3 separate regions of the Homo sapiens genome follow, and regions 1 and 2 are each linked to region 3. Evidence: fine-mapped expression QTL. A gene starts in region 3. Each other region holds a variant in brackets. All regions are shown on one strand. Distances are from middle to middle.

Region 1 (8,190 bases), 78 kb after region 3:
ATTGTTATCATCTTTATGTCCATGAGTACCTAATATTTAGCACCCACTTATAAGTGAGAATATGCTGTATTTGGTTTTCTGTTCCTGTGTTAATTTGCCTAGGATAATGGCCTCCATCTACATCCATGTTGCTGCAAAGCACATGAATTTGTTCTTTTTTATGGCTGTATAGAATTCTATGGTGTGTATGTACCACGTTTTCTTTATTCAATCCACCGCTGTTGGGCACCTAGGTTGATTCCATGTCTTTGCTATTGTGAAGACTCTCTGTTTTTTGTTTGTTTGTTTTTTTCTCTGTCACCCAGGCTGGAGTGCAGTGGCGCCATCATGGCTCACTGCAACCTCTGCCTCCCGGGCTCAAGCAATTCTTCCACTTTAGCCTCCTGAGTAGCTGGGACCACAGGTGTGCACCACCACACCTGGCAAATTTTTTTGGAGCAACTTATTTAAACTCCTGTGTCTGATCTCTATTAATTTAAAAAAAAAAAATAGAGATGGGGTTTTGCCATGTTGTCCAGGCTGGTCTCAGACTTGTGAGCTCAAGCAATCTGCCCACTATGGCCTCCCAAAGTGCTGGGATTACAGGCATGAGCCACCATGCATGGCCTTCTCCAGTCTTAAGAATAGGAATTAATAGGAACTAAGCCTCTCCCTACATTGCTCTGTAACAATCTTCCACTGCATGGGAGGAAAGATAGAGGGAATGATGGAAAGGAAAAGGAGAGAGAACAGAAGAGTCTCACAGGACCTATAAGACAAAAATTCAATAAAAAAAAAACAACAACCAAAAAACCAAGGTATATAGGCAACAAACAGCACAATAAATGGAATGGTACCTCACATCTCAATACTAACATTGAATGCAAATGGCCTAAATGCTCCACTTAAAAGATGCAGAATTGCAGAATGGATAAGAATTCACCAACCATCTGCTGCCTTCAAAAAACTCACCTAACACTCAAGGACTTACATAAACTTAAGGTAAAGGGGTGGAAAAAGACATTCCATGCAAATGGACACCAAAAGCAAGCAGGAGTAGCTACTCTTATATCAGACAAAACAAACTTTAAAGCAACAGCAATTAAAAAAGACAAAGCGGGACATTATATAATGATAAAAGGCCTTGTCCAACAGGAAAATATCACAATCCTAAATATATATGCACTTAACACTGGAGCTCCCAAACTTATAAAACAATTACTACTAGATCTAAGAAATGAGACAGACAGAAACACAGTAACAGTGGGGGACCTCAATACTCCACTGACAGCACTAGACAGGTTATCAAGACAGGAAAGTCAACAAAGAAACAATGGATTTAAATTATACCCTGGAATAAATGGACTTAACAGATATTTACAGAACCTTCTACCCAACAAATGCAGAATATTCATTCTATTCATCAGTGCATAGAAATTTATCCAAGATAGACCATATGATAGGCCACAAAACAAGCCTCAATAAATTTAAGAAAATTGAATTATATCAAGCACTCTCTCAGACTACAGTGGAATAAAACTGGAAATAAACTCCAAAAGGAAGCTTCAAAACCATGCAAATACATGGAAATTAAAAAACCTGCTCCTGAATAAGCATTGGGTCAAAAATGAAATCAAGATGGAAATTTAAAAATTCTTCAAACTGAACGACAATAGTGACATGACTTATCAAAACCTCTGGGATACAGCAAAGGCGGTGCTAAGAGGAAAGTTCATAGCCCTAAATGCCTACATCAAAAAGTCTGAAAGAGCACAAACAGACCATCTAAGGTCACACTTCAAGGAACTAGAGAAACAAGAACAAACCAAACCCAAACCCAGTAGGAGAAGGGAAATAATTAAGATCAGATCAGAACTAAATTAAATTGAAACAAACAAACAAACAAAAAAACAAGATAAATGAAACAAAAAGCTGGTTCTTTGAAAAGATAAATAAAACTGATAGACCATTAGCAAGATTAACCAAGAAGAGAGAAAATTCAAATAAGCTCAATTAGAAATGAAATGGGAGATATTACAACTGACATCACAGAAATACAAAGGCTACTATGAACACTTTTGCATGCATAAACTAGAAAACCTAGAGGAGATGGATAAATTCCTGGAAAGTTACAACCCATCTAGCTTAAATCAGGAAGAATTAGATACCCTGAACAGACCAATAACAAGCAGCAAGATTGAAATGGTAATAAAATTACTAACAAAAAAAAGTACGGGACAAGATTCACAGCAGAATTCTACCAGACATTCAAAGGAGAATTGGTACCAATCCTACTGACACTATTCCACAAGACAGAGAAAGAGGGAATCCTCCCTAAATCATTCTATGAAGCAAGTATCACCCTAAACCAAGGACAGGACATAACCAAAAAAGAACAGTATAGACCAATATCCCTGATGAACATAAATGCAAAAATACTAGCTAACCAAATCCAACAATGTATCCAGAAAGATAATCCACCATGATCAAGTGGGTTTCATACCAGGGATGCAGGAATGGTTTAACATATGCAAGTCAATAAATGTGATATACCACATAAATAGAATTAAAAACAAAAAATCACATGATCATCTCAATAGATGCAGAAAAAGCATTAGACAAAATCCAGCATCCTTTATGATTAAAATTCTCAGAAAAATCGGCATACAAGGGACATACCTCAACATAATACAAGCCATCTATGACAAACCCACAGCCAAAATAATACTGAATGGGAAAAAGCTGAAAGCAGCTGGATGCAGTGGCTCACGCCTGTAATCCCAGCACTTTGGGAGGCCAAGGTAGGCAGATCACGAGGTCAAGAGATCGAGAACATCCTGGCCAACATGGTGAAACCCTGTCTCTACTAAAAATACACACACACACACAAATTAGCTCGACATGGTGGCACATGCCTGTAGTCTCAGGTACTCAGGAGGCTGAGGCAGGAGAATAGCGTGAGCCTGGGAGGTGGAGGTTGCAGTGAGCCAAGATTGTACCACTGCACTCCAGCCTGGGTGACAGCAAGACTCTGTCTCAAAAAAAAAAAAAAAAAAGAAGAGTTGAAAGTATTCCCTCTGAGAATTGGAATAACTCTCACAACTTCCCTTTAACATAGTACTGGAATTCCTAGCCAGAGCAATCAGACAAGAGAAAGAAATAAAGGGCATCCAAATTGGTAAAGAGGAAATCAAACTGTCGCTGTTTGCTGATGATATGATTGTTTACCTAGAAAACCACAAAGACTCCTCCAGAAAGCTGCTAGAACTGATAAAAGAATTCAGCAAAATTTCCAGATACGAAATTAATGTACACAAATCAGTTGCTCTTCTACACAACAACAGCGACCAAGCTGAGAATCAAAATAGCTGCAAAAAAAATAAAATACTTAGGAGTATACCTAACCAAGGAGTTGAAAGACCTCTACAAGGAAAACTACAAAACACTGCTGAAAGAAATCACAGATGACACAAACAAATGGAAACACATCCTATGTTCATGGATGGGTAGAATCATTATTGTGAAAATGACCATACTGCCAAAAGCAATCTACAAATTCAGCGCAATCCCCATCAAAATACTACCATCATTCTTCATAGAACTAAAAAAAACAAAAACAAAAAAAAAACAAATCTGGAGGCATCACATTGCCTGATTTCAAACTATGGTATAAGTCCATAGTCACCAAAACAGCATGGTACTGGTATAAAAATAGGCACGTAGAACAATGGAACAGAACAAAGAACTCAGAAATAAACCCAAATACTTGCAGCCAACTGATCTTCCATACAGTATCAGGGAACCTGCCCTGATAGTCACATAGGTTCTTTTCTATTTTCCCTAAGCATCGGCCAGGTTGAGAAAAAAAGGGACAGAGTACAAAAGGGAGAAATTTTAAAGCTGGGCATCCAGGGGAGACATCACATGTCGGTAGGTTCCGTGATGCCCCACAAGCCACAAAACCAGCACGTTTTTATGAGGGACTTTCAAAAGGGGAGGGAGTGTACAAACAGCGTGTGGGTCACAAAGGTCACGTACTTCACAAGGTAATAGAATATCACAAGGCAAATGGAGGCAGGGCAAGATCACAGGACCACAGGACCGGGGTGAAATTAAAATTGCTAATGAAGTTTCGGGCCCCATTGTCATTGATCACATCTTATCAGGAGACAGGGTTTTGAGAGCAAACGGTCTGACCAAAATTTATTAGGCGGGAATTTCCTCTTCCTAATAAGCCTGGGAGCGCTATGGGAGACTGAGGTTTATTTCATCCCTACAGTTT[C/T]GACCATAGAAGACGGCCACACCCAAGGGGGCCATTTACAGACCCACCCTCAGGGGTGCATTCTCTTTCTCAGGGATGTTCCTTGCTAAGAAAAAGAATTCAGCGATATTTCTCCCATTTGCTTTTGAAAGAAGAGAAACATGGCTCTTTTCCGCCTGGCTCACCGGCGGTCAGTTTAAGGTTATCTCTCTTATTCCCTAAACAATTGCTGTTATCCTGTTCTTTTTTCAAGGTGCCCAGATTTCATATTGTTCAAACACACGTTCTACAATTTGTGCAGTTAATGCAATTATCACAGGGTCCTGAGGTGACATACATCCTCCTCAGCTGACAGGATTAAGATATTAAAGACAGGCCTAGGAAATCACAAGGGTATTGATTGGGGAAGTGATAAGTGTCCATGAAATCTTCACAATTTGTGTTTAGAGATTGCAGTAAAGATAGGCATAAGAAATTATAAAAGTATTAAATTGGGGAACTAATAAATGTCCATGAAATCTTCACAATCCATGTTCTTCTGCCATGGCTTCAGCCGGTCCCTCTGTTTGGGGTCCCTGACTTCCCACAACAATAAAGCAAACAAAAACATAAAGTGGTGATAGGACACCCTATTCAACAAATAGTGCTGGGATAATTGGCAAGCCACATGTAGGAGAATGAAACTGGATCCTCGTCTCTCACCTTATGCAAAAATCAACTCAAGATGGATCAAGAATTTAAATCTAAGACCTGAAACTATAAAAATTCTAGAAGATAACATTGGAAAAACCTTCTAGACATTGGCTTAGGCAAGGATTTCATGACCAAGAACCCAAAAGAAAATGCAATAAAAACAAAGATAAATAGCTGGGACATAATTAAACGAAAGAGCTTTTGCACAGCAAAAGGAAGTCAGCAGAGTAAACAGGCAACCCACAGAGTGGGAGAAAATCTTCACTATCTATACAATTGACAAAGGACTAATATCCAGAATCTACAACAAACTCAAACAAATCAGCAAGAAAAAAACAAACAATCCCATCAAAAAGTGGGCTAAGGATACGAATAGAAAATTCTAAAAAGATGATGTACAAATGGCCAACAAAGATATGAAAAAATACTCAACATCACTAACAATCAGGGAAATGTAACTTAAAACTACAATGCGATACCACCTTACTCCTGCAAGAATGGCCCTAGTTAAAAAAAAAAAGAACAAAAAATGATATATGTTGGTGTGGATGTGGTGAACAGGGAACACTTCTACACTGTTGGTGGGAATGTAAACTACTACAGCCACTATGGAAAACAGTGTGGAGATTCCTTAAAGAACTAAATGTAGAACTACTATTTGATCCAGCAATCCCACTATTGGGTATCTACCCAGAGGAAAGGAAGTCATTATATGAAAAAGATACTTGAACATATATTTATAGCATCACAATTCGCAATTGCAAAAACGTGGAACCAGACTGGGTGTGGTAGCTCATGCCTGTAATCCCAGCACTTTGGGAGGCTGAAGCAGGTGGATCACCTGAGGTCAGGAGTTCAAGACCAGCCTGGCCAACATTGTGAAACCCTGTCTCTACTAAAAATACAAAAATTAGCTGGGCGTGGTGGCATGTGCCTGTAATCCCAGCTACTGGGGAGGCTGACGCAGGAGAATTGCTTGAACCTGGAAGGCGGAGGTTGCAGTGAGCCGAGATCACGCCATTGTACTCCAGCCTGGGCGATAAGAGCAAAAACTCCATCTCAAAAAACAAACAAACAAAAAAACAGTGGAACCAAACCAAATGCCCATCAATCAACAAGTAGATAAACTGTGGTGTGTGTGTACAGACAGACATATATGTACAGACATATATGTACATACAGACATATATGTACAGACATATATGTACATACAGACATATATGTACATACACACACACACACATAGTGTATAGTGGAATACTACTCAGCTATAAAAAGGAATGAATTAGTGGCATTTGCAGCAACCTGGATGAGAATGGAGACTATTATTCTAAGTGAAGTAACCCAGGAATGAAAAACCAAACATTGTATGTTCTCACTCATAAGTGGGAGCTAAGCTATGAGGATGCAAACGCATAAGAATGACACAATGGATTTTGGGGGTCAGAGGGAAAGTGTGGGAAGGGGCCAAGGGATAAAAGACTACAAATTGTGTGCAGTGTATACTGCTCAGGTGATGGGTGAACCAAAATCTCACAAATCACCACTAAATAACTTATTCATGTAACCAAACACCACCTGTTCCCCAATAACCTATGGAAATAAAAAAAATTAAAAAATTGGCCAGGCATGGTGGCATGTGCCTGTAGTCCCAGGTACTCAGGAGGCTGAGGCAAGAGAATCGCTTGAACCTGGGAGGTGAAGGCTGCAGGGAGCCGAGATCTCCAGCCTGGGCGACAGAGCAAGATTCTGTCTCAAAAACAAACAAACAAAAAGACTAATGTTTCTACTTTTGATATCAGCATAGTAATAAAAGAACAAACAGCTTATAAAATCATTCTCAAGTCTTTAATTAAAATCCATAGAGCATTTAACATGAACAGATGTTTAAACTCTTTCAGTGACTCTCATATTTTAAAATCCTTTGCACAGCATCGTGAGGCTAACTTCATGCTAGAAATCTACGGATAACGTAACACCACAAAAATACATTCGGAGTCCATTCCAATGCAAGTTTAAAACACTTTAATTGGCAGACAATGTAAAGATATTTAAAATCAAAAATTACAAAATGAGCACATAAAAGTCTTCCCTTTTGAATTTTTAATAAAATACTTCTCTGTATAAGATCTAATGAAAAATTCCAGTTACTTATAAAATAGTTGAGAAATCAATTAAGATATGTATCTATATATGTATGAATTACACTTTTGTTTAAATGAACAAAATGTTGAACACTTCAATGACAGCACAGCATCTATTACTCACATTAAACTAGATGAAAATACTCAAAGAAGCAGTTGGATACAGGCAAAAGAAAATATGATACTTAAAGCCAAAAGACAAAAAAATCCAAAAAACGAAAACAACCTCCCCATCCCCCACCAAACCCTTAACTGTAAGGGAAAGAAAGGAAGAGAGAACTTAAAGCTAACTATGGACCAAATTCTCATTCTTTTTAATGAGAAACAGCATGAGAATTTGGCTTCAAATTACTAAAACAGCTACAGAAACCTATTTGGCCTGGACAATTTAATAGTATACCAACTGCTGAAACAACCAAGTGCAGTTGGTGTACGGCTGGAGGGAAAAAAAAAAAGACTTTTTACAGGTTTAACTTTGTAAAAAAATGTATCTTTTGGAAACCATAGTCTCCTTCACAAATTGCACTTGAGATGGCTGAATGCATTGATTGAGCAAGGCATTATTATTTGTTCACTGACACACACACAAAAGCAGCTACAGATAGTTGACATTTTGGACTACTAAAACTATTTTATACATGTTTTTCTTCTTTAAGAAAAGGATCTATGATGTCTGTGAAACTTAACGGCCTGTCTGCTCTGCCATGTTTCTGGAGACTTGATGCTGGTTCAACACTATCTCTTACTGTATTGGAGAAGTTTGATGGAAATATGAATAAAGTCAGTCCGAACGACATTAATTTCTGGAATTTTAAGCTTTATCTTGACTAGGAAAGGAAGCTCCTGCAAAACTGATGGTTTCACTGACAAAGCTTACAAAATGTATATACTGAGCACTGCCAGTTTGAGTACTATAATTTATCTCTAGAAAAATGACAAATGAACTTCTGCAATTGATTTTTAAAGACAGAGAACGACTTTCACAGCCACTTCTCTACAATAAATTAATTGTCTTCTACAGTAAAAACAAAATTTGGAAGCAACATGATACCAAGAAATACAGCAAGCTCATAAGGCTGAGAAATTGTACAGTTGCTTTAAAAAACTGTGCTC
Region 2 (8,152 bases), 590 kb after region 3:
TGTATGTGTGTGTATAGTGATTTGTTTACAGGGATCTGACATTACACAACTGTTGGAGTTGGTAAGCAGTCTCTGTAAGTCCCTGTTTTTTTATCTAATGCTGGAGCAGAGCTGGAAGTCCACAGGGTAGGCAGGTGGGAAGAAAAGATGGATGTCAAGTGGGAGAGATCAGGGACAAGCTAGAACCCATGAAGACAGACCGAGTCCCATGTGACTCCTCACATCTCCAACCTTATGATGTGGTACCCTGTTGGAGAAGTGTTGCCCTTTGCCACTTGCTTTTGCAAGTATGTTACTAAACACTCACTTGGCCCAGGAATCAAGAGAAGCTGAAGCAGGATCCAAGGAAAGGTGGGTCAACTGTAGGCCTGGCTGCTGCCCCACATTAGCAAAGTGAACCAGCAGATAAGTTACAGCACGTGTGAGCTGCAGAAGTGCCCGCATCAAGAACAAAACGGCTGCTGCTTCACTTCTGCTCTCCAGTCTTGCACTAAAATGTCTCTTGTAACTGGAAGCATACAAGAAAGGGAATTTTGGGAAACATAATTAGGCCTAGCCAAGTTGATACATTATAAAGCCACCACAGGAACAAACTGCTGATATATGCAATAGCATGGATGGATTTTAAAAGTAAGTGAAAGAAGCCAGTCACAAAAAGCTACAATACTGTATGGTTCCATTTAGATGACATTCTAGAAAAGACAAAACTATAGGAACTGAAATCAGATCATTGAGTACCAGGGTCTAGTGGTCTAGGAGACAACTGACTGCACAGCTCATCAAACTGTATGCTTAAAAAGAGTGAATTTTAATGTATAGAAATTATGCCTTAATAACCCAGACAAAAAATCTAAAATACAATGCTACAACATACTAAAATAAATAAGAAAATAACAGTGGAATCTTAAAATTCATTACCACTGCCAAAGAAAGCAGTGCTTGCATCTGCAAGTTGGTAGCCCATCACTCACACAGCACAGTGGGGTACAGTAATAAATGCCAAGGTGAATAACTTCGTATTACTTTTTCAAAATTATTTTTGCTATCCAGGTTCTATGATTTTTCATTTAAATTTTGGAATCTATCAATTTCTTAAAAAATAAACGGGATTTTTATTGGAATTGCATTGAAACTAGAGACCACTTTGGGAAGAACTGACGTCTTTACAGTATTGTCTAAACTATCAACATGATGTAGCTTCTCATTTATTTAAGTCTTCCTTAATTTCCCTTAGCAATGTTTTATAGTTTTTAGCATTGAAATCTAATAGCATTATATATTAATAACTAAAAAAATAGAATGAGATTCTACTCACATGCAATCCCAATGAAGACCAGTTTGCTTATCATTTAGTTATGTGTTCAGATTTCAAAGCTTAACATCTTTCCTTAAAGTAACTACAGGTTGTTGTTATTAATTGTTTGAAGGATACAAACCAACTGCTAATCATTGACAGTCTTTCTTAAAAAATGATAAAAGTGGAAGTGCTCTTAATCTTATTAATAAATACTTATTATCTCTTTTCTACCTGATAAAGAAAACTTTCTTTGATTCCTTAGACTTCAAAATTTTTGTTTTCCTCAGAAAATACGTGTATAAAATACCAAATAAATTGAGGGTATAGATCCTGGGAGTAAACCAACTGGGTCTAGTTATTCAGATTACACTAAGAAACTAATAATAGTATCAGGGATAATCACTGCTCTGAATTCCTCATTTATAAGTTAATGTATTAGTTTTCTGGCATCACGGCCCCATTCATAAACAAGCTGTGTTTCTGGAGGATATACTTAGAAGAATTTCCCATTACAGTGCTTCTCTTCATTTGATAATTTCACATTGTTTTTTCCTATTCTGCTCTCCCTGCCCCCAGACTGAAATAAATACTTCAGATATGCAACACATAAATTAGGAAAATTTTTATATACTAGTTGATGCTTTAAAAATAACCATCTTCTGTAATCCCAGCACTTTGGGAGGCTGAGGCGGGTGGATCACAAGGTCAGGAGATCGAGACCATCCTGGCTAACACAGTGAAACGCCATCTCTACTAAAAATACAAAAAAATTAGCCAGGCATGGTGGGGGGGGCCTGTAGTACCAGCTACTCGGGAGGCTGGGGCAGGAGAATGGCATGAACCTGGAAGGCGGAGCTTACAGTGAGTCGCGATCACGCCACTACACTCCAGCCTGGGCGATGAAGCGAGACTCTGTCTCAAAAAAACAAAAAAACAAACAAAAAAAACCATCTTTAAGAGACATGATTTCTGATATAAATTAAATTATAGTAATAAAAGAGGCAAAACAGCAGGTTTGTGTAGGAGGTAAATGTATACTTAAAAAAAAAACAAAAAACAAAAACTACTATCCCAGCCAATCCAATATGTGACACAGTAAGTTCCTTTTTCTTCATCCTGCTACCAAGAATCTGGAAAATTATCTCTCTCTCCCTCTCTCTCCCCACTAGAAAGGTTATTTAATTCATCCTTCAATTTTAGGCAAATTTATTCTTATTGAAAGATAAAATGGGCCGGGCATGGTGGCTCACGCCTGTAATCCCAGCACTTTGGGAGGCCAAAGTGGGTGGATCACCTGAGGTCGGTAGTTTGAGACCAGCATGACCAACATGGAGAAACCCTGACTCTACTAAAAATACAAAATTAGCCTGGCGTGGTGGTGGCGCATGCCTTTAATCCCAGCTACTCCGGAGGCTGAGGCAGGAGAATAGCTTGAACCCGGGAGGTGGAGGTTGTGGTGAGCCGAGATTGCGCCATTGCACTCCAGCCTGGGCAACGAGAGTGAAACTCTGCCTCAAAAAAAAAAAAAAAAAAATGAGATAAAATGATTGAGTGCTGTTTTAAAAATTTTAAGGAGGAAAATGCACAAGCTACCTCAGTAACTCATTCAGAAATTGAATTAATTCTGTGAGGTAATTCAGCTTCTCATTTTAAAATTCATTTCCTCCAATTTTATTTCAACGGAAAAAGCAATCACAATATTTTCTGTGTTTGCTTGAATGCAGATGTTTTCTTCTCCCATCCACCCCCGCTGACCCCAGTGACAGAGTCTCACAATATTTTCCAGGCTGGAAGTACAGTGGCTATTAACAGGTGCCATCATAGCACACTACAGCCTCCAACTCCTGGGCTAAAGAGAACCTCCTACCTCAGCCTCCCAAGTAGCTG[G/A]GACTACAGGAGTGTGCTACCACACCCAGCCTCTTTCTTTTGAAAAGCTGTAAAACAAGACCAGGCACAAGAAGGAACAGTTCTCTCATTCTCTTTTGTATCCTCACTCTAAGTATAGTATTAATGTTGAATGGCACAAAGTTATTGAATAAAAATTTAGCCATTATCCGTTAGTGTAAATATTCTAGGAATGACAACTAGTTTATTAAATACTCTTAACAATTGTGTGCTCCAGATCCTATTTTCTCAAACTACATTAAAAGAAAACTTAGATTCCCTACTTCAACCTTCTAATTTAATATACAGGAAAACTAGCATTTTGAGTAATTTGTCCAAGTGTATATACTGACTGGAGATACTGAATTCAATTGATTTTTCCTATCAGTCAATATATATCCAAAAGCTTTCCATTTTTGAATTAGCTTCTCATTGTAGGTTCATCTTGGTCAGCAAACAGAACTTAAGTTCCTACTTTTCTAAATAACTAATTTGTTAAAAACTTTTATGACGAGGGTCAAGCAGAGACCAGCAAGATGAGCAAGAGTTGGAGGAAAAGGATGGACAGGTAGGTAGTGAACATCATAGGAAAGGGGGAGTTAGCCTCAGAAAGTAACAGCCAGACCAGAAGGGACCAGAGTGTTTAAAGCACACAGACTGGTGAATTTTATTTCTGTGCCACTTTCTATCCTAATCAATTTGAATATTCAGCCAGGCGCAGTGGCTCATGCCTGTAATCTCAGCACTTTAGGAGGCCAAGGCAGGTGGATCACCTGAGGTCAGGAGTTTGAGACCAGCCTGGCCAACATAGTGAAACATTAGCTGGGCATGGTGGTGTGCGGCTGTAATCCCAGCTACTCAGGAAGCTGAGGCAGGAGAATAGTTTGAACCTGGGAGGCAGAGGTTGTAGTGAGCCAAAATCACGTCACTGCACTCCAGCCTGGTCAACAGAGTGAAACTCCATCTCAAAAAAAAAAAAAAAGTACATATTCAAGGATCCAGAAACCACTTAAGACCATAAGGGATCTCAGAAAGTATCCAATTCAACTTCATGTTACAGATAAGGAAACTAAAGTTCTCCCATTGCCACACTGTGAATGAGAATCCAAGTCTTTTTCCTTTTCAGCTGGGAGGCTCTTACCTGCATTATGTTACTATTAATATCAGTTTTTTTGTGAGATGAATTAATCAGATATATGAAGTCTTACTTTCAGCTTGTAAATTTTCTTCATAGGTTTCTATACTTAAAAGCTTCATCTCGTTGAAATCTAACCCAATCTTAGTATTAGAATGCTACAGGGACATCATTCAGGCAAAGATGTTTCATTTATATCTAATCAAATTTTAGCCTTTTAAACTCAATTGTTGATTTTGTTTTTAAAAGGGAGAAGCAAATGACAAAAAAATCAAAACCAGGATTTTTAATAATAACTTTAGAATACTTCAGAACAAATTTTTATGTATATCCCAGAGCTACTCACCCAGAACACCCGATTCCATGCATCCATGGGCAATCCCACACTTGTACATCCAGAGAGCCTTTGTCAAAAAGAGGCTATTCGTGGCCCAGTGCTGTGGCTCACGCCTATAATCCCAGCACTTTGGGAGGCCAAGGCAGATGGATCACCTGAGATCAGGAGTTCAAGATCAGCCTGAACAACATGGCAAAACCCCATCTCTACTAAAAATACAAAAATTAGCTTTTCTTAATTTGGTCAGAGTTTTGTCAATTATATTAGTCATTTTAAAGAACCAACATTTGGCTTTCCTTTTTTCTATTATTTAAGATGACAATTTTATTCAATTTCTGCTCTATGCTATTTTATCCTACCTTTTAAAAGTTTATGGTGTTTTCCTTTTACTAAGTTCCCAATTTGTATCATTCACAAATTAATAATTTCCATCCTTTCTTTTATAATGTAAACATGTAAGATTATAAATTTTAAAGTGTTATTTAAGCTGCATTTCACACATTTTAAAATGCAGTTTTTCTATTGTTCAGTTTTTAATATTTTGTTTTCCATTATGGTTTCCTTTTTATCATGAGTTGAAAGTACATTTCTTAATTTCCAATTTTTTTCTTGTTTTTTGTTGTTTACTTTTTGTTATTAATTTCTAGTCATTTACTGTTAGAGAAGGCTGTTCGATACCAGTTGTTTGAAATTTGTTGGAATTTGCTTCATGGTGCATGGCAAGTTCTGAAATTGTTCCATACGAGCTCAAAATAATGTGCCCTTGGTTCTGTTCTACATATGTGTGTTAGGTAAATCTAGCTAATTGTGCGGTTCAACACTTCTATATTTTTAATGTTTTCTCTTTTAAATCTGTCAATACTGAGAGAAACATGTTAAAACCTCCCCTTATGATGGTAAACTTGTCCATTTCTATTTATACTATATCAGATTTAGTTATATATTTTGAAGGATGTTATTAGCTGTGTGCAAATTTAGAATTGTTATATCTCCTTGTAACTCTCTTCATCTTGAGTAATGCCTTGAAGTATTTTTTTTCTGGTATTAATAAAACCATACCATTTTTATTTTGGTTAATGTTTGCCTGGTATACTGTATTTATCTTTTTCTATCCCTTTCCTCTCAACTTTTCCGTGTCCTCATGTTTTAGATGTCTCTTTCAAATAGCACATAGCTGTATTTCTTTTTCTAAGCCAGTCTGACCATTTTGACGTATAACTTTCAGGACTTAGTTTAGGTGTTTACTGAAATTATTGATATGTTTGTATTTTTACCTTATTTTGTTGTATTTTTCCTGGTTTCACTTTCTTTAATTTCTTCTTTTTTTTCCTCTGCTGGTTTTAAATGTTGATGCTCTATTTATATTATTTATGCTCTATTTATATTATTATTTTATTATATTACCCTAGAAAAATTAATGTAAATACTTAAATTATCAAAGTCCTAAGTTAATATTTTTATCTTTCTCTCTCTCAATACGAGGTCTTTAGAATACTTAGGTCAAATCTTTTTAAAAAACATTTGCTTGCTAATTGAATTTAATTGCAAATTTTTTGTTTCCATTTATATAAAAAATATAAATTTGTTTGCTTGAATCCATGAACTCAAGCAAAAGGTGTTTCTGATTAATATTACTTAACTCACGTTAGAACTTTCTCATTAGTGCCTGTTTAATTACAGGGCTTTTCTTTAAGGGAGTTTTTTTTGTCATTAGTTGATACCATTTAAATAGTCCAGAAGTAAATGGGAGCCTGGTAGCAGTAGTCTATTAATACATGAAAGAAAAGAAGGTAAATGTCTTCCAATTAAGGTTAACTTGGAAGTAAATTACAGAATTTAAGACTTGGGAACTTGGGAAAAATCTTAAATGTTCATTTACAGGAATTCAAAGGATGAAAATCAAGCTAGCAAGATGCTCTGAAACAGTGAGATTTATTTATAATTTTGAAATGTTTTGTGATATGTTAGTATGGTCACCTATTCATTCTTCATGTGTATTTGATTCCCCAAGTATAAATACTTAAAAACAAAAACAAAACCTTATCAACTATTCTTGAAAAATAAACAATTCCTAAAAGAGAAAATAGTATGGGATCCCAGAAGTTATGTAGTCTAACTCCCTCAAATTATAACTAAGGAAACTAAACCTCAGTCAAAATAAAGGTGTCTTAGTCCGTTCTGTGCTGCTATAACAGAATATCTGAGACTGGGTAATTCATAAAGAACAGATATTTATTTCTTACAGTTCTGGAGGCTGGGAAGTCCAAAGTCAAGGGCCCACATCTGGTGACGGCCTTCTCACAGCATCATCCCATGGCAGAAGGTGGAAACGCAAGAGAGCACATGAACACATCAACACATGTGCATGCCCAAAAGAGAAAGACAAGGATGGAGTGGGGACGCAGGGGGCCAAATTCATCCTTTTACCAAGGACCCATTCTCACGATAACTCACTCACTCCCATGATAATGGCATTAATCCATTCGTGAGGGCTCTGCCTCATAAAAGAGCCCACCTCTCAACACTGTTGCATTGAGGATTTACTTTCCAACACATAATTTGGAGGATACAGTCAAACCATAGAAAAATGATTGTTTAAAAAGGAAAGAAATTACAAAGTGGTTGTTATTCCAGAAAGAGCAGCTTCACGATTCATCTTATCTCTATGTTTTGAATAACTGAAGTAAAAGACAAACCAGTGCCACACACTTTTAACCGTGAATCCCCTAAGCAGTTGTAAAATACTGTGTCAGAGATGTCAATAGTATGAATAGTTTAGATTACTCTTCTCAGTTTTTACCCCACTGTGACTCAAGCCCCCACTCACCTGAAGAAGTCTTTCCGCTGGTCATGCAGAAGCTTGATACCCGCCAGCATGCTGCTTGTAATTCACCAATAGGAGATTCTATTCAGAAAGAAGAAATACTGAAATCTTTAGGATTCCCTCCTAAGTCCCGGAACATGTATTCTTAAAGGGAAGCAACTTGCTTTGAGAAGGCTGGAATCAATGAGGAGTCCACAGTTACATCCTGTGCTGGGCGCAGCTGGTCTGCGAAGTTCAGCTGGCTAAGAGAACTTTCTAAAAGCTGACACTGGCCAGGGAAGCCAGTCACCCACTGTCATCAGGGTCTTCTAGTTCATCTACTTCCTGCTGACGGCTCCTCAGTGGGAAAGTATAGGAGCAGTTTCTGACCTGCCTGTCAGCCCAATTTTGTCGTTTCCTTAGGCTCACCCAGCTGCCGTAACAGAGGGAACAGAGTTCCTTCTGAACTTCTATTTTGCCACCCTTTAAATGTCTGGTCATCCTAGGGCTGGGAATTATTGTTTTCATCTAAAAGAGTATTTTCCCTTATTTCCAAAACTTTGCTTCTACCGTGGAAGAGTTTGTGACCCACGTCTTTGTTCATCCCTAATGTTCTTTCAGCCTTCTTTGGATAGGGATGGTTATCCGCTCTCCCACAGCCCCTGGCTGGTAACCTCCTACAGGGCTGGTTGCTGC
Region 3 (8,187 bases):
GAAGTAAGATTGACGTCTTCTCACAGCCTATTTTGTTCTTGTCTACAAAGGGGAATCTCTTTATTTTTTCTTTTTTAAAAATTTCTTTCCCAGTATAATCAAATCATACACTAAGAGGTTTTAGGTTTCTATTATACATTCTTTCCATTGGAATATTACAAGAGGTGTAATTTTCACTTGACAGAATAAACACAATCAAGTTCTGTGTCTAAGTCATAGAGCCCCATGAATTCCTAACATTTTAACTGCAATTCAATTATTTATTCTGTAACAATGAGGTAATAAACCAGGTACTAAGCAGCAATGTAGACCAACAAGATCCTTGTTCCCAAAAAACTCAAATTATCTGCAGTAAAGGACCAGTTGCTAATTGTTTTTTTAAAAAATTTCTATTCATTGGCCAGGCGCAGTGGCTCATGCCTGTAATCCCAGCACTTTGGGAGGCCGAGGCGGGTGGATCACCAGGTCAGGATATCGAGACCACCCTGGCTAACACGGTGAAACCCCATGTCTATGAAAAATACAAAAAATTAGCCAGGCTTGGTGGCGGGCGCCTGTAGTCCCAGCTACTCAGGAGGCTGAGGCAGGAGAATAGCATGAAGCCGGGAGGCGGAGCTTGCAGTGAATCGAGATCAGTCACTGCACTCCAGCCTGGGCGACAGAGCGAGACTCCATCTCAAAAAAAAAAAAAATTATATTCATTGTGGACCAGCAATTTTTAAGATACAATTAAGTTTCTAGTCCTAGTGCAGTAACTCGTGCCTGTAATCCCAGAGCTTTAGGAAGCTGAGGCAGGAGGATTGCTTGAGCCCAGGAGTTCAAGGTTGCAGTGAACTGTGATCAGGCCACCTGGGGGACAGAGTTAGAATCTGTCTCTAAAAATAACAATAATTTTTATAAAGTTTCCAGAAAAAAAAGGCATACAAAATAAAATCCCAAACGTTTCATTACTAGAGTCAATAGACATAAAATTATTCTGCTAAGTTGCTACACAAGTTTCTAAATGCTTAGTTTTCTTTTATTATCTCAATCCCAGCAGCCCCGTAACTACACTTTAAGCAGTACTGCTATAAACTCCTACCACACAGAGAGGCATTGCTGCACATTTCTTAATCTACGACTGTGCTTTATCCGGGAAGAGCAGGCATTTTTTTTGTATTTTTATTTACTCATATCTTTCTTTTATCCAGACACATTTTCCACAGTTTAGAGTCTGTGCAAATCTTCCTGGCCTCCTGCCACTCACAGCAATCTTGATCCATCTTTGAGATTCCTCACTTCATTCCTAAAAAAACTAATGATCTGCCCCAAATTATATATTAACTGTGAAACTTTGCATTTTCTAGTAATTCATTTCTCCCTTTGGTTCCAAATATTTCAATTCCTTAAAAGAAAAACAAAAACAAACAAAAAAACAGTGCTTAAAAGTACTTTGTGTCTAGAATTATAAGGGAGACTTTAAAAAGTATCGTTTTTGTGATAAATACTCTTAGAAAGGTAATGAGTACCCAGTCACTGAAGGGTGGTGTCTGCCTTTCATTTTTCTTTTCAGGCTGGGATAGGGATAGTGTGTGGGTGGGTGGGCAGTGTTCCCACACAGCTAGCCAGAGAAGGGACCAGGGAGCTGCTACAATCCCAGTTCCACTGTCTTGGTCCTGAAACCTGAATGGAGGCCGGGCACAGTGGCACACGCCTATAATCCCAGTGCTCTGGGAGGCTGAGGCAGGCGGTTCACCTGAGGTCAAGAGTTCAAGACCAGCCTGGCCAACATGGCGAAACCCTGTCTCTACAAAAATACAAAAATTAGCCAGGCATGATGGCGGGTGCCTGCAATCCCAGCTACTCAGGAGGCTGAGGCAGGAGACTTGCTTGAACCTAGGAGGCAGAGGTTGCAGTGAGCCGAGATCATGCCATTGCACTCCAGCCTGGGTGACAGAGCGAGACTCCGTCTAAAAAGAAAAAAAAGAAAAACTTAATGGAAGGAAGTCTGATGTTTCCCCAGAACAAATGCTCAAAGCAGTCACTACTCACTGGCACTCTAGCTGGACCTTGCTCCTGGGCAAGTGCTACAAAGAAAAACACCTCTAAGGTGGTGGGAAGAAGAACGGGACACTGAGAAAAAGGGGGAATACAGTGCTGCTGGGAATGGTTAGGTAACTGATGGCTCCGGCCCTCCCTCAAATTTCTAACATAAAAAGATGTTGGTACTGGGAAGAGAAAATAAGAACACCATAACAGGCTGGCTGCAGTGGCTCACGCCTGTAATCTTGGCACTTAGGGAGGCCGAGGCGGGTGAATTATTTGAGCCCAGGAATTTCCAGACCAGCCTGGGCAACATGGCAAAATCCCATCTCTATTAAAAAATACAAACAAATTTAGCCAGGCATGGTGGCCCCTTGCCTGTAGTCCCAGCTACTTGGGGGGCTGAGGTGGAAGGATCACTTGAGCCCAGGAGGTCAAAGCTGCAGTGAGCCGAGATCACAGCACTGCACTCCAGCCTGGGTGACAAAGTGAGACCCTGTCTCAAAAGAAAAAAAGGAACAACAATAAGAACACCATAACAAATAAATATTATTTTTGGTGCATTGACAATTGTGTATAAATCAACACTTCATTAATATGAGAACAGAAGGATATCAATTTGTTGGTTGCTGACCAATATTATCAACAATTCAAGGCTTTACTAACAACCAACCAATGATTTGGCAGGTCTCTCAAACGAGGGGAAATAAAGAATTTTATGAATTCTCAAAGATGGAAAATAGAAAACTGATGACCACACAGCCTTCAAAACTTGCCCAATACCTCTAATATCCACGGCAATCAGTTGCTCACGTAAGGAACCAGCATTTTGTGGAGTAGTAGTTAATAAAGATGACAAGTGAAGAATAGAGAATAAACTTAAATTCTACAAAGATATGAAAAGTTATTGAGGCACAAGTCCAAAGGCTATAATAAAGAAAAAAGAAAAAAAGTTTTGAAAAATTAAAATGTAAATAAAGATGTGGTGGGAGATCTATCAGGGAAGTGCAGGAAGAACCAAGCAACTCACAAACCACCCTCTGGCTGGATGTGCACAGCCTGCCCAGTCCCGTCCGGCGAGTCACCTCAGTCCCATCCAGGTAAGGCCGGACAGGTGGCTCCCCAGGTGGCAAGAGGCAAGCGAGCGGCCCAGGTCATACACCGGGCCCCTGGCACCCTCAGCCTGGACAGGAAGGGCGCGCGGGATTCAGCCCAGACGAGGGAGGGAACGCGAAGACTCAGCCGGTCTGGGCGCGCCGTTCTGGCCCCAGGGCCCGCGGGTGCTGCAGGTGGCCGCGTCCAGGGCGGTAGGTGGGGCCTGCCCGCTCGCCTCCCGAGGCCGGACCCCGGGACTCAGCGAAACCCAGTCAGACCCGCGCCCCACGCCCGCCCCCAAGTCACCTTCTGCACGCTGGAGCCGCAGACCCGCGCCGCCCGGTCATAGACGTGGCAGCGGATCACAGAACTGCCCACATCCAGCCCCAGCACGAAGCCGGGGTACCGCGGCTCCTGCGCTCTCTGCTCCGGGTCCGTGAGCAGCCCCGACATCCCGATCCCGCACGCCTCTCCGCTACAGCCGCCTACCCAGAGGGCGCGCTACAAATCCCAATGCTCCAGAGTCCCCGGGCGGCCCAACCCGGGCCCCAACCCGGCTCAGCCGGAGAGCCTAGAGAGGCCTGGCCCCTGCCGCCGGCTCCACCCCGACGCCGTGACGCCACGGGCGCGCGCCGGCGGCCGCGCGGGAGGGGTGGAGGTGAGCGGGTTTGCGCCGTGATCTGCAGCCCCAGATCGCCAGCCATGCTCAGCCTCCAGTCGCCGGCCGCGGTTGGATTGACTTGGCCCTTAACTCTTGTTTTTTTTCTTTTTGAGACGGAGTCTCACTCTGTCGCCCCGGCTGGAGTGCGGTGGCGCGATCTCGGCTCACTGCAACCTCCGCCTCCCGGGTTCAAGCGATTCTCTTGCCTCAGCCTCCCGAGTAGCTGGGATTACAGGCGCGCTCCACCACGCCCGGCTATTTTTGTATTTTTAGTAGAGAAGGGGTTTCACCATGTTGATCAGGCTGGTCTCGATCTCCTGATCTCGTGATCCGCTCGCCTCGGCTTCCCAAATTGCTGCGATTGCAGGCGTGAGCCACCGAGCCCGGCGGCCCTTAACTCTTAATTTTTTCTTTTGCTTCTCCAGCTTCCTGAGAGGCAGCGCCAGCGTTTCTCTTAACCCTAGCTACATTTGAAGAATCTCTGTTAAAGAAAAATAGCTACCCCATATGCTAATCGTAAGGAGAGAAGTATAGGCTAGTTTATATAAAAATCTCAAAAAGTTTGGAGGTGCCATAAGGCACATTTATTCATTTCTCAACTATGATTATGACTTGAGGGTTGGAGAAATTTTTATCTGAGTAACTTTGGCAGACTAACCTGTGTCTGCGTTCGTGCAGAATTTTTCAAGCTTAAAACATTTGTAGAGGTCACTACCATATATAGTTTCCATTTTTTTGCTAACATTTTGGGTGCGACTTTATTTCAGTATTATTAAATGCACAGCCATTGAATATGCTAGAGTTAAATGAAATAAAGTGCTGTTTTTCAAAAATGAAATAAAACAAGTGACATAAAAAATTCAAAATTTGGCCAAAAGTATTAATATTTATTAACAAACTGAGAGCTCCCCACGACTTCTCTTCCCAGAAAACCTGGTAAAGTTTGCACACAATACAAAGCGGTAAATATTTGCCAAATGAAATACAACGCAAGGAAGAAGACTTTTCTCAGCCCTCTAGTGGGAAAGAAAGGAGAAAGCTTAAGGTGGCTGCTTTGACCATCACACTCCACTCCAGCGGTTGCTTTTTTTTGGAATCTGAAAGCCTCACAGAGACCCTTTACCTTTTGTTGCTGCCCAAGGGGATGGGCTCATCCAGACACTTGGCCAAAAGGAACAAGGTGTCCTGTGGAAATTTCGAGATTCTTGCGGCTTAGGTTCCTGGGCCTGGAGCTTTCCCGGGGAGGGTCCTGATCTGCAAGTAGTGGGGAGGTGGTTCCACCTGCGCCACCCACCTCTCCACTGCCACCAGCAATCTGTGAAGCCGGGGCCTGAAAATATTCCTTATCTTCTTTTTGTAAAATTAGCAAACATATGAATATATGTTTTGTGTGAAAACGTTTAACAGTGCCAACTGGTATGTCAATTAAAAGGTAAAAGATAATCATTTTGGCTGGGCGCGGGGGCTCACGACTGTAATCCCAGCACTTTCGGAGGCCGAGGCGGGCGGATCACTTGAGGTCAGGAGTTTGAGAGCAGCCTGGGCAACATGGTGAAACCCCGTCTCTACAAAAATACAAAACTTAGCCGGGCGTGGTAGCGGGCTCCTGCAATCCCAGCTACGGGGGAGGCTGAGGCAGGAGAATTACTTGAAGCCGGGAGGCGGAGGTTGCAGTGAGCCGAGATCATGCCACTGCACTCCAGCCTGGGCGACAGAGCAAGACTCTGCCTCAAAATACATACATACATACATACATACATACATACATACATACATACATACTTACATACATACATACATACATACTCATTTTGAATCAAAACTTTTTTTAGACAGGGTCTTGCTCTGTCGCCCAGGCTGGAGTGCTGTGGTGCCATCTCAGCTCACTGCAGCCTCGACCTCCCGGGCTCAGGCGATCCAACTGCCTTAGCCTCCCATGTAGCTGGGACTACAACCACCACGCCCGCCTAATTTTTGCATTTTTTTGTAGAGACTCTGTTTCGCCATATTGGCCAGGCTGGTCTTGAGCTCCTGGCCTCAAGTGATCCTCCCACCTTTGTCTCCCAAAGTGCTGGGATTATGGGTGTGAGCCATTGTGCCCAGCCAAATCATTCTTTTTTTTTTTTTTTCTTTTTTGAGACGGAGTTTTGCCCTTGTTTGCCCAGGCTGGAGTGCAGTGCTGCGATCTCGGCTCACTGCAACCTCCGCCTCCCGGATTCAAGCGATTCTCCTGCCTCAGTCTCCCAAGTTGCTGGGACTACAGGCCCTCTCCACCATGCCCAGCTAATTTTTGTATTTTTAGTAGAGACGGGGTTTCACCATGTTAGCCAGGATGGTCTGGATCTCCTGACCTCGTGATCCGCCCGCCACGGCCTCCCAAAGTGCTGGGATTACAAGCGTGAGCCACTGCACAGGGCCAAGTCATTCTTTTGACCAAATTGTCGTGTTAATCAACTTGCTTTCAGACAATTTGACAAAATTGGCTCTTTGGCCATACAACGTGAAGCTTGGAACATACACCTGGAAGAGTATGTTTTTTTTCTTTGTACCCTGTTCAACAGTACTGATTTGTTCCAAGTGGCCTCAAGGACTGACTGCCTTCACCAGTGCTGGCCATTTTGGTCGTGTGTGTGTGTGAATTATTGTAATTCGAAATAAATGACTAATGGGTCCAGTACTTGTCAGGGTTCTACAGAGAAATAGAAACAATAGGATAGAGAGAAAGAGAAAGAGAGGTTTATTATTTTCAGGAATTGCTTCATGTGATTGTGAGGGCTGGCAAGTCCTGGATATTTGTGGGGCAGGCTAGCAGGCTGGAAACTCAAGAAGAGTTTCCATGTTGCAGTTTTGAGGAGACTTCCTTCTTTGGGAAACCTGTCTTTGTTCTTAAAGCTTAAAACCAATTGTATGAGACTCACCCAGGTTATGAAGGGTGATCTGCTTTACTCAAAGTCTACTAATTTAAATGTTAATTATTTCTAAGAAATACCTTCACAACAACACCTAGACTGGTGTTTGACCGAACAGCTGGGCATACAGTGTGTCTAACTAGCCTAGCCAAGTTCACACATAATAGTAACCATATCAGTTCCCCATTCACAACAGAGAAAACGGCTTTGTATTACCTGATGTTAATATTTAGTATATTTCTCAAAGTGATATTTCTTGGCTTCTTGAAACCTGACACTTCCTTAATGATCCTTTTTATAAATTCAAATAAATTATATTGAGTATTATCAAATCATAGAATTTGAAAACAGGGGCCTTAGAAACCACTTAATCTAGTGTTTCTCAAATTGTTTTCAGATCTTGAACAACTTTGAGGCCATAATGAACACTATCTTCCCAAGAAGATGCTTATACACACAAAATTTTGCACATAACTTCAGGTGCTGGGTGTTGGGTAAAGCAAACATAAAGATCTCAGATAAAAATCAAGATCTTATTTCACTGTTGAGTAGGAGAGGCCTGGGAGAACAAAGAGATACCTGTTTCTCCCACTTGCTTTGTTCTCTGTCAGCACCTCTAACCCTGCTCTTCTCTAAGGGAAAGGAGTATATGGGCAACAAGGCACAGGGCTCAGAGGCTTCTAAGGCCTTTGATAGCTGGTCAGTCATTCTTTTTTCTTAATTTTTAAAAAATTTTATGGATACATAGTAGGTGTATATATTTTTGGGTTACATGAGATATTTTGATACAGGCATGATAATCACATCAAGGTAAATAGGGTATCTTTTATGTCAAGCATTTATCCTTTGTGTTGCAAACAATCAAATTATACTCTTATTTTTAATGTACAACTAAATTGACTGTATCAAAAAATAGTCGATGTTGGTGTGAATGTGGTGAAAGGGGAACACAGACTGCTGTTGGGAATGTAAATTAGTACAGCCTCTATGAAAAACAGTGTGGAGATTCCTTAAAAGAGCTAAAAGTAGATCTACCATTTGATCCAGGATTCCCATTACTGGGTATCTACCCAAAAGAAAATAAGTCATTATATGAAAAATACACCTACACAAATATATTTATTATGGCACAATTCACAATTGCAAAGATATGGAACCAACCTAAGTGCCCATCAACTAATGGGTGAATAAAGAAAATATGGTATATATATATACACACACTATGGAATACTACTCAACCATAAAAAGGAATCAAATAATGTCTTACAGCAACTTGGATGGAGCTGGAGCCCATTATTCTAAGTGAATTAACCCAGGAATGGAAAACCAAAGAAGTAGGAGCTAAGTACACAAAGGTACACAAAGTCATATAACGGACTTTGGAGACCCAGAAATGGGAGGGTGGGACGGGGGTGTGTGATAAGAAGCTACCTACTGGGTACAATGTACACTACTCAGGTGACTGGTACACTAAAATGTCAGAATTCACCACTATATAAT

What was found. PIP is the estimated chance that this variant, and not a neighbour inherited with it, causes the effect.
Region 1: its variant is fine-mapped to the expression of GK5 in esophagus mucosa (GTEx, PIP above 0.99).
Region 2: its variant is fine-mapped to the expression of GK5 in whole blood (INTERVAL, PIP 0.94).

Annotation. Positions count from the first base shown.
Region 1 is chr3:142,299,848-142,308,037 of GRCh38, forward strand. It overlaps XRN1 (5'-3' exoribonuclease 1), which reads right to left. Exons shown (of 41, transcript NM_001282857.2): 41 at 6,763-8,190. Among named protein-coding and RNA genes, the nearest start is that of GK5, 78 kb to the left of the region's middle. The variant C/T (reference allele first, on the strand shown) is at 4,262.
Region 2 is chr3:142,809,055-142,817,206 of GRCh38, forward strand. No RefSeq gene overlaps it. Among named protein-coding and RNA genes, the nearest start is that of PCOLCE2, 76 kb to the right of the region's middle. The variant G/A (reference allele first, on the strand shown) is at 3,185.
Region 3 is chr3:142,221,886-142,230,072 of GRCh38, forward strand. GK5 (glycerol kinase 5) reads right to left here and starts at 3,700. Exons shown (of 16, transcript NM_001039547.3): 1 at 3,424-3,700. The coding sequence starts at 3,570. RefSeq lists silencers at 3,234-3,453, 3,644-3,883.